Homo sapiens: one gene and its partners. The protein of the gene in region 3 interacts with the protein of the main gene of each other region in a biochemical or structural test. Each region holds a gene or a part of one and is shown on either strand. Other genes may lie near its edges. The genes, in order: IFT88, IFT56 and UBXN10.

Region 1 (3,737 bases), on a different chromosome or scaffold from region 3:
GGCATATAAAATAATGTTCTATGAGGGTAGTGGGGAAAAAAAACTAATGCCTCTAATTTCTAGCAACATTTATTTAATTCTGAAAAGACACCTCCATAATGTTTGCACTTCTGTTTAAAAGGGTGTATTTTCAGTGGGTAAAGGTTTCATATGCTAAACACATAGGAAAAAAAGGGCGTTTGAAATTTTGAAGTGTTAGATGCTTACTGTTTATAGCTGATACTCTACGATTCCATGAAATCTTTCAGGGATAATTTATGATGATCATTTTTTACCTTTAGGAACATAATTTACTATAAATTAATTACTTAAATTGTAATTTAGTATATAGAGCTTACTATACAGATTCTTCTGATAGACTTTAAGGTTTAAGATATTTCCACGTTTAATTTATATTTAGTTCACGATCTTGCTTATTTCTTTGATCACCAGCAGCATTAATGATACACATTTATTCTTTGTAGGTCCTCCAGAGATTAATAGATGGCAAATACTACTAAATTAAATAGAATACATAGAAAATTAAGGTGAAATTTAGAGGACAGGTCTTCTTTTCTTAATGTTCATTTGTAATGCAAGATAATTCTTTTGTTTACTTAATTTCATAATTGGCTGAGTATCTTGATATAAGTAGCTAACTTTGTTATAGGATTTTAATCTCTAGAAAGATTATAGGTGAAAGGGGCCTAAAGTGGTCTTATGTGTCTTTTCTATAATATTTTCTTCCTTAGGTTCTTTTCAATTTGGCCAGTCAGTATTCAGTTAATGAAATGTATGCCGAAGCACTTAACACTTATCAAGTTATAGTCAAAAATAAGATGTTTAGCAATGCAGGTAAGTGTACATAATCAGTTTTTCCAATAGATGTAATTCTTTCGTAGTGTTAATTTATGTCTCTTCATTTTATGCTTCCTTAAAATGAAATGATCTATGCTCTAAACAAATCAGTATTTATGATAGGGGTATCCTGCTTAAACATACTATTTATATAAAAATCCTTACAGATGAAGAAATATAGTTAGTATGAGGTATATTGCCTAATAGTATCCTGTTATCACAAGTAGAATGAGCCATGACATCCTCATAGAATGTGCTTTTCCTTATATAAATTTATCCCCAAGAGATTATAGTTTATATTTAGCATTTATATTGTGTAATTTTTTGGTAGCAGTATTAATGTTTATCAGAATGTCGTTTCCTTTAATATTATTAAAATGTATGTGGCATTCTTGAGTCTAACTTTTAAATGTCTTTAAGTTCCATGTTTTCTTAGAAGAACGCACAATAATGTAAAGCACAATAATGTAAATCAGTTGTTTTCTAGCCATAGTTTCAGGAATCTGTCTTAAGTTCCATTTCTTCACAGGAGGTAAGTTTGAAAAGTATAACTGTTTTAAAGTTAGAATTTTAGATAATATCTGAGACTTCATAACTGAGAAATGCTTCAGAGAATATGAATTAAAAGTCATCTAAAATATCAAAGAGTGGAAAAATGAGAGTATTATACATTCATTAAATTTTTTTAAATTAGGAATATTGAAAATGAATATGGGAAATATCTATTTAAAGCAAAGAAATTATTCCAAAGCCATTAAATTCTACCGAATGGCATTAGACCAAGTTCCAAGTGTCAATAAGCAAATGAGGTAAGTTTATAACAATAGATAATAATTGTAAAATTTAAGTGTTTTTCTGAAACAAGATAACTCTTCTGACCTGTTTTCAGTGGGTTGAACATTTCAAAGTGTTTGTACATGAGATTTATACGTGTAGTATTTTGATCTGTTCCCTTCTTACTACTTGTACACATTTTTATAATGACAAGTTAAAGGTTAAAGCATTGTATATGATCATATGAAATAAAACTAAGTGACCAATAAAGGGGTTAACCCTGAAGGCCATTACTACCCTGATATAACTTAATGCGGACACAAAATCATAATAGCAGTCCTCCAGAACATATCAATACAAGGCTAGAAATTAAGCTCCCCTTACGTTCTTGCTGTAGCTTGAGAATGAAATAGAGAAAAGGATTACTTCTGAGTCTTAGAAGAGGGGGAAGCTGGGATATTTTCTATTATAATATTCAGGAGCAGAAACAGTAAGTTCTCTTATGGTCTAGTGATAACTGTGGGGACATAGGAAGTTTCCAAGATATTTACTGATCATAATTTCCCCTAGGCACAGTACAGTTTCTCTGTGAAAGTTAATTTATTTGCAATACCATCTTTTAAGATCATTCGTTTTTGAATTTTACATAATATCTCATTATCATTAGCAAATATTATCTAACTTACAGAACACAATGCCCTTGAAGTACTTTTAAGCCAGGTGAGACCAAGAATTTGAGCATTTTAGAAAAAAAATTGTATTGAGTAACATATATTAAGTGCTTCATAATCAATAATCAAGACAATGGGTGCTATAATAATTCAGTGGAAGAAATCATTATTGAGAACAAGAATGATCAAGAAAGGCTTTATGAAGGAGGCATACTTGATATTGACTCTTTAGGAGGAGAGAAGGGATAACATCTGAGAAAAAGGCAACACCTGAGACCAGTCAGGGAAATAATAGTCTTTATGATCTGATCAGAGAATTATGAATAAACTAATTGAGTTGAAATAGAGGGATTATATTGAGGAGTGTTTAGAAATAAGGTGGGATCACATCCATTAGAATGGCTCCAATCAAAGAAACAATAAGTTTTGGTGAGTATTTAGAGAAATTAGAAACCTCATTCACTGAGATGTCAAATGGTGCAGCTACTTCGGAAAACAGGCAGTTAGCTAAAAAAGTTAAAACACAAATTTACCATGTGACCAGCAATTCTGCTTTTAGGTATATACCCAAGAGAAATGAAAATATAGATCGTCACAAAGGCTTTTACACAAACATTCATAACAATTATTCATAATAGCCAAAAAGTAGAAACAAGACGAATGTCTACCAAGTAGGCAATGTATAAATAAAATATGGTATGTATTCATACTATGAAATGCTATTTGACAAAAAAAGGAATGAAGTACTGATACATGCTACAAAATGGAAGAATCTCAAAAAATTATGCCAAGTGAAAGAAGCAAGACAAAATATCACAAATTGTATGACTCCATTTATGTACAATGCCTAGAAGAGACAGAGAGACAGAAAATAGACTAATGGGCCGGGCACGGTGCCTCATGCCTGTAATCCCAGCACTTTGGGAGGCCGAGGCGGGCGAATCACCTGAAGTCAGGAGTTCCAGACCAGCCTGACCAGTATGGTGAAACCCCGTCTCTACTAAACATACAAAAATTAGCCCGGCGTGGTGGCATGTGCCTATAATCCCAGCTATTCAGGAGGCTGAGGTGGGAGAATTGCTTGAACCCAGGAGGCAGAGGTTCCAGTGAGCAGACATCATGCCACTGCATTCCAGCCTGAGCAACAGAGAGAGACCCTGTCTGAAAAAAAAAAAAAAAGACTAATGGTTACCTAGGGCTGGGAATAAGAATGGGGAATGACTGTTAATGAGCACAGGTTTTATTTTTAGGGTAATGGAAATGAATTAAAATAAGGATGTGGTTATAGTTCCACAACTATATAAATACAGCAATAATTATCGAATCATATACTTAAAATGAGTGAATTTTATGGTATTTATATAAAGCTTTTATCAATAAAGCTTTAACAAAACAAAAACGAAGTAAAGTGGGAGACGAAAAAAGAAAACTATTTGTGAATGGTTTGAATGCCAT
Region 2 (3,737 bases), on a different chromosome or scaffold from region 3:
ACATAGATATTGATTTCTCTAACAACACTAATATGAATCTTTACATGTCTTTTCCACTCTCACAATTTTAGTTTAATGATGAGAAAAAATTGATGAGCTTTCATCAAAATCTTCAGGATGTCACAGAAGATCAACTCAGTTTGGCCTCAATCCACTATATGCGATCTCACTACCAAGAAGCTATAGATATATATAAGCGAATACTGCTAGATAACAGGTCTGTGTCCTTTTATGCCCACTCTCCATTCCTTTCATTTTGTTAGTTTCTTCTTTAACTAGTTTGAGAATCTAGTGTCCTCTGGATCTAGTACCACTATGTGTTCAAATCTGTTTAGTTGATAATTTGGTGAGATTAAGAATTAGATATTGTCTAAATCAGGCTTTCTCTACCTTTTTTTGCATTGTCACCCTTCTAAAAGACTTTTTCCCCCAATTGCCCTCCCATGAAATTTTAATATACTGATAGATGTATATTAATATATATCCATATATGTACTATATGTATAACTGTGCTTTACATATAAAATGATTATGATTTTTTCATCCTCCCATTAAGAACCAATTTTTCCCCTTTGGGGGTAATACTGATATTACCCCAGTTGAAATGTATGGTCTAGATGTATCAAACTTAGTGTTATAGTTACATCGTAGGTAACTTGCTGACAAAATTAGATACAAATCATTCTTAAGAATTTACATTCCAACTTTAAACACTTGGCCTCTCTCTCCCTTCCCAAAAATATCTCATCCCCCTTCTTTCCATCCTCTTTTGCATTACCTTCTTAGTCTCCTACCTGCTTCCATTTCCAGCCATCAAGCCTATGTGTCTTGTCTGTTGGTCTTCTGTGTGGAGTGTGCTTGTGTTTATGTTCAATTATTGCATATATTAGTTTTTCAGTGTGAACAGCGTGAACTTTCCCTTTCTTCTCTAGTCATCTTTCATTCTACTTATATCAAAACACCCAAATATTGCAATGCAAAAAGAAAAAAATTATACTGATCATATCTTGCCCTCTTTCTTCATAAGGCAGGTTCATGAACTGTCCTCTTTGCCTTGTCCATTTGAGCTTTGTAATTTGACATTTCCGTGAAGTAGACTTAAATGGTTAACCCTAATTCTTTCATCTAATAGGGAATACCTTGCCCTTAATGTTTATGTGGCCCTCTGCTACTACAAGTTGGATTACTATGATGTGTCTCAAGAAGTTTTGGCTGTTTACCTTCAGCAAATTCCTGATAGTACCATCGCACTCAATCTTAAAGCCTGTAACCATTTTCGCCTTTACAATGGCAGAGCAGCTGAGGTATTGATGGAAGTGTGTTTTTAATGTACTTCATTCCAATTTGAATTACTTTATACTTTCCAAGTTATTCATGAAACTCTGTTATCTGTAACTCTTGATTAATATCCCTTTATCATTGCCACTGTGATTCTATAAGAACCTAATTATATGTTTATCAGGTATTCTAAAAAGAATGTTGACTTCTGAATTATCTGTGTTATGTCCATTAAATTGTAGATGATTTTACTGAGATGCCCTACATTTAAAACCAAATGCTTATGTTTAAAACCAAATGCTTCTGGCCGGGCGCTGTGGCTCAGCACTTTGGGAGGCCAAGGCGGGCAGATCACTTGAGGCCAGGAGTTTGAGACCAGCCTAGCCAACATGGCCCCATCTCTACTAAAAATACAAAAAATTAGCTGGGTGTGGTGGTGCATGCCTGTAATCCCAGCTACTGGGGGGTTCGGGGGGCGGGTGGAGGTTTCAGTGAGCCGAGATTGAGCCACTGCACTCCAGCCTAGGTGACAGAGCGAGACTCTGTCTCAAAAAAACCCAAAAACCAAAAAACAAATGCTTCAGCTTCTTCCTCTAAAATATGTGTGTGGCTCTGTGATTGAATGCCACCAACATACATCCAGTAAACCACATTAGAAACCTGGCATATCTGGGCCAGGCACGGTGGCTCACGCCTGTAATCCCAGCACTTTGGGAGGCTGAGGCAGGCGGATCACAAGGTCAGGAGATCGAGACCATCCTGGCTAACACAGTGAAACTCCATCTCTACTAAAAACACAAAAAATTAGCTGGGCGTGGTGGCGGGCGCCTGTAGTCCCAGCTACTTGGGAGGCTGAGGCAGGAGAATGGCGTGAACTCGGGAGGCAGAGCTTTCAGTGAGCCGAGATGGTGCCACTGCACTCCAGCCTGGGTGACAGAGCGAGACTCCATCTCAAAAAAAAAAAAAAAAGAACCCTGGCATATCTGTTGACTCTCTTCTTCATCTCCATGTAATCATCAGTTCCTATCAGCTATACATCCTAGATATCTCTTTTATCTATCCCTTCTTCTCCTTGGCTACTATTCTAACCCAGGAGTTTCTCACCTCTTATTTTGGCCCTTTAAATAGTGTTCCTGCCTTTAGTCAGTCTTGTTATCTTCAGTCCAACCACTGAATTTGTTCCACATGCCATGCTCTCTTACCACCATAGCTTTGTGTGCAACATTCTCACTCCTGGAATGACTTCCTTCTTTCTCTGCTTGGTACACGTCAACAAAGGTTAGCCCAAGAGGCAAAAATGGTGGACATTTTATAAATACTTAATTGGCTAACTTGTAGGCACCATGCAGAACACTTTAAATCCATTATTTAGTTTCCCTGACAAGCCTGTGGTTAGAGGCTATTGTAGTTCTCGTTTTATAGGAAACCGAGAAAACACAGGAGGCCATAGATTATTACCTCCTTTTGTTTCATTTAACATGTTTTAAATAACACATAACTTTACTAACATTTTAATAACATAATTTTATTTAACACATACACATATATACATATATAATATATAGATATAGGTAGATACATACATAGATATAGAATAGAAAATATGTTCTACACTATATCTATATACAAATATGTGGGTATAAATAGATCATTTAACATGGTTATTACTTTAGTTGATGTCAGAAGCCACCAAAATTTACATGTAAAATTTCTGCATGTGTCAAACTTTAAAAATCCTACCCTTGCCCTCCAAATTGAATTGCTTAGTATACACTTGAGCACATAGTATATACTTATATATTAAATAAAATGCATTCTTGGGGTAATAGTCATTTCAACTAAGGAGTCCCCCAAGTCTGCCTAATTGGCTTGTTTCCAGCATCAGCAGTTTAGTAAGAGACTCGATTAGCAATTTGGTATCTTTAGAGTTTTCACCCGTTAGTAAGAACAAATAAATGAAATACATTCTTGCCTTTCTACCTAGAGTCAGTCTTGGGGAAATTTACCAATTTTGGTGTGTGGTCCAATTTATTAAATGTTTACATTTTGTCTGTATATGTCTTTTCCATAGTCTAGTATGGTTACTCAATATCCTATCTATAGTATACACCTAGAATTATCCAAGTTAGGACATCAGAGTGTACTTCTAACCTCAAAAGGCAAGCTTTTTCCTTTGAAATTGTGTCAATGTAGTTTATATATTGATTTTATAATGTACTCCAGCAGTAGAAGGCTATGTCAAATGTACCAGAAGAACCTTTTTTTGGTACCAATAAGATAGAGTTTATGTTTAATTATTATAATTTTAATAAACTATTTAAATTCAGGCATTCTTCTAACTTGTATAACAGGGTCTGTATTACATTGTTCAGTGTCTCACAAACACCAATAGCATCCTGCTTTTCTAAAGTAAACAGGAAATAATTTGTAATGATTGACTTAATTCTTAAACTACTTTG
Region 3 (3,500 bases):
TCCATGACTCATCTGATCCCTTTTATGGCCAAATCATCCTTCAGAGTAGGGAACACTCAGACATTCTGTGCATGTTGTTCCCCCAAAGCATGGTCATCACAAAGTCCTGAGTTCTGGTGTGTGCTCCCGCCTCCTGGGTATACAGAGAGAAGGCAGGAATCAGGAGTTCCAGAAGCATATACATGTGGCTACCCCAGCAACAAGCGCATCCTGTGCTCAGATAAGCTGCATGGTTGGGAGTGTTTTTTCTCGCACGTTGAGGCTTAGTGGAGATGGGCACCACTGCCATTTGCTCAGAAGAAGGCTGGTCTGGTCCTAACTGCATCCCACACTGCCCAGATCATTCTAGAATAGGTTATTTCTGAATGTTTTATAGAATTTCTTAATACCATCCTGGTTTGGTCAGCCATTCCTTTGATTGGAAAGGTCAGCTGGGGCCAGTGGTGCCTCAGGCAGGCCCACACAACTGGCCACCTCTTCCCGTTAATGACCACAGCAGACAGAATTTGAGCCCAGCACCTAAAAGTACAGGAATTTCACTTCCCACCAGGACTTGAGCACATAACTCTATGTCTGATCTAGGAGGCTGGGGGAAGAGCCTCCCATAAAATCACACCTACTCTGTGGTAAGAATAAAATCCCACCCACCTGGGACTTGGTAATTTCTCCAGACAGGAAAGCTTTAGAAAACTTGAGTGAAATGGAGCAAGCTTGAAGGAGTTAGAATCTTCTGTGCTTAGGGTTTGCTGCTGCTGGTGAGCTTAGAATTTTGGGGTTGGGAAAAAGTGGAAGGCATAAGCATAGAAATATTTTAGGATATTTTAGGATATGTGAATAAAGCTAGACTCAAACCATCATAATAAACATTTTTTTTTTGGACAAAAGATGATACGATAAAAACCAACTTGTGTGAAACTGAGTCAGTGGAGAAGTGCATCTCGTATTTTAACCTAAGGCTTCAGCTCCCACACACGACTGGACAGAGGGGTGTGTTAGCCTGATCTTCAGTTTTCTCATTGGGAAAGCACTTGTTCCACTGTTAGAACCAAGTCCTCCTCCCCGGACACTTCTGATGCCCACTGCAGAAGCGACGGGGCTCCTGCTCTCAGCTTCTGTCACAGCACTTAGCTTGTCTGGATAAGAGTCACCTGAATTTTTCCTAAACATCATTCCAAGTACTCTGATTTTGGGGATTGGCAAGAACAAACTAAATCAGAATTCAGAGTTCCTGATGGCTCCACATGTTGCATTGCAGCTGAGGCCCCCTGTCCTAAATGGGCTCAACCGGCCTAGCACACTCCTCTTGGTGGCTTTGGGTGGGTCAGCCTTGCCCAGTTTGGGGTCATAGACCTCAGTTATTCATTTAACCGATGGCCATTGAGGGCTTACCCAGTGCCACACTTTGAGACAAGCATGGGTGTCCTGAAAAGAAAGTGTTGGCAAGAAAACATGAACCCACCATTGGACTCTCAACTCAAACCTTACTGAAGTCAGTGGCTATAGCTTTATCTGCAAAGGACCCCAAAGTGAGGATCCCACATTGTTACTGCTGGCTCTTCATCCCACCCTCTGGAGATGCTAAGGAAGCTCTTGCCCACCTTTTCTAGTGATGGAGTAGGAACTTTGCATAGGACAAACCTTCATGATAGGTTACTCTAGTATATTCCCTCATAAAGTCCAATAGGTAAATTAGTCTTGGCAGCAGAAGGAACAGCAGGAGAAGTAAGTGATTCATCATCTAGAATCCAGAAAATTTGCACCAACAGATGGCAGGTGGTTATAACACAACAGATCTTGCCCTGAGAATATCTGGGGACCCAGCCAACAGCCTTCAAGGCAGGGCACTCCTGCGGAAGAGATGGCTTGTGAACATGACTGTGGACCCAGAGTCACCCCAGAGCTCCCATATAAAATGCTTCACAGAGAAACTAAGAGCAGCCTTGGGGCATTCATTCCAATTAATAACCTTAAAGACTAGAGCCAGATCCACCTGCATTACAAAAGCAGGCATTCGAGGAACTAAACTTTGCTTTTGTTCATGCTCTTACCTGCCGTTTTAAATGGGTTTCTAATGTCAAATAAAGCCACCCTGCCTCTTGGGACAAAGATGTTTCTCTTTACTTAGTTTTAAAAATAAAATCCTCATAATAAGTTCGGATAAAAGAGACTTTTACATGGTAAGAGGATCTACTTTTCTACCTTTTAAACGGAATAAAGAAGACAGCTATATTATTTTGCTTTAGCATTAGTTTAGAAGTCATTCCAAGAATTAAGCAGGAACATCTGTTTTCTCAGTCCATTAAGGCAACACCCCACAGTAAAGTTAAAAGTTCACGAGCCTATTGACTCTCATCCAGAAACCAGAACCAACCAAACCCCACCATATAACAGGGAAGGCCTGAGGTCGCTTCGGAGGAGTTAGCAATCAAAGGAGAACAGACTTTTGGTGACTCAGTTACCAACACACAACACTCATAAAACTAAAATTAGGTGTTTTATTTTTTGTCTACACGGGTGGCGTGCCACTTTCCTTTCCTGATTAGGGAAGCTTCTCCCAGCCCTTTCTGACGTTCATCTGTGTGCCTTTATGTTCAAACAGTTTAGGAAGCAGCAGCCCTCCTAACAGTCGACGCGGAAGCACAAATCTCTGGAGGTATTTTTGGACACACTTAAATCCTATCCCAAGAGACTGAACGACTGTGGTGACAAATGCCCACGGGTAAAACTGAGCAAGCCTCATTCAGACTGTCCTGCTCAGAGGCGCCCTCTGGCTGCCGTGTTGAGGGGCTGGGGTGGAAGATGGAAGACTTGAGTGCTGGAGGTATGAAGGTGACCAGAGAGAGGTGATGGTGGTTCGGGCCAGGGTGGTAGCCAGAGATGTCATGAGAGGTGGCCAGATTCTGGACATATAATCCATTTTCTTAAGGAGAAAAAAAAGGATAGTTTGACAAGTTGGGATTCACCCAGGTGGACTTAGCTTGACCAATATCGCCAACGTGGATTGTTTCTGCAAAAACAAACAAGCAAACAACCACCACGGCAGCAAAGCACATGGCAGGCAGGGGAAAGACACTGACCAGCAGGAACATTCCCATCAAGGAAATGCACGAGTGTTTTTGGACAAAGTGTACAGAGAAAATCAAAGCTATTCATTGTTTTAATTAAGAGATAAAACTAAGGTCACTGTTTCACTTAATGTTGAGATATAAGTTAAAAGTATCATCTACCTCTAGGGGTATGATATGACTGCTGACCAAGGTTACTTAATAAGAAATCCTTGTTCTAGTTAAATACACTGTTTATCTCTATCTCCTGTCCTTCATCCCTCCCTTTCTTGCCACCCTTCCCTCCATTTATTCCAGTCCAGCAGCTGACTGGGGATGCATTTCTTCTTGGGAAGGCAAACAAAGCCATCATTCTGGGGCTTAATTAATAAAGCTCCTAGTTTCATAGTTTTCATGCTCACCTCGTGTTTATATGAGGGGATCTGTGCAGTGGGG

The links.
Region 1: the proteins of UBXN10 (region 3) and IFT88 form a complex in vitro, tested with the Homo sapiens proteins (one study listed by BioGRID).
Region 2: the proteins of UBXN10 (region 3) and IFT56 form a complex in vitro, tested with the Homo sapiens proteins (one study listed by BioGRID).

The regions. Positions count from the first base shown.
Region 1 is NC_000013.11:20,597,920-20,601,656, forward strand, and holds part of IFT88 (intraflagellar transport protein 88 homolog), read left to right. Parts: intron 1-731; coding exon 732-834; intron 835-1,531; coding exon 1,532-1,646; intron 1,647-3,737. UniProt on the Homo sapiens protein: Positively regulates primary cilium biogenesis. Also involved in autophagy since it is required for trafficking of ATG16L and the expansion of the autophagic compartment.
Region 2 is NC_000007.14:139,147,074-139,150,810, forward strand, and holds part of IFT56 (intraflagellar transport protein 56), read left to right. Parts: exon of another isoform or gene 1-71; coding exon 72-217; intron 218-1,132; coding exon 1,133-1,304; intron 1,305-3,737. UniProt on the Homo sapiens protein: Component of the intraflagellar transport (IFT) complex B required for transport of proteins in the motile cilium.
Region 3 is NC_000001.11:20,192,596-20,196,095, forward strand, and holds the end of UBXN10 (UBX domain-containing protein 10), read left to right. Parts: 3' UTR 1-3,455; downstream 3,456-3,500. UniProt on the Homo sapiens protein: VCP/p97-binding protein required for ciliogenesis. Acts as a tethering factor that facilitates recruitment of VCP/p97 to the intraflagellar transport complex B (IFT-B) in cilia.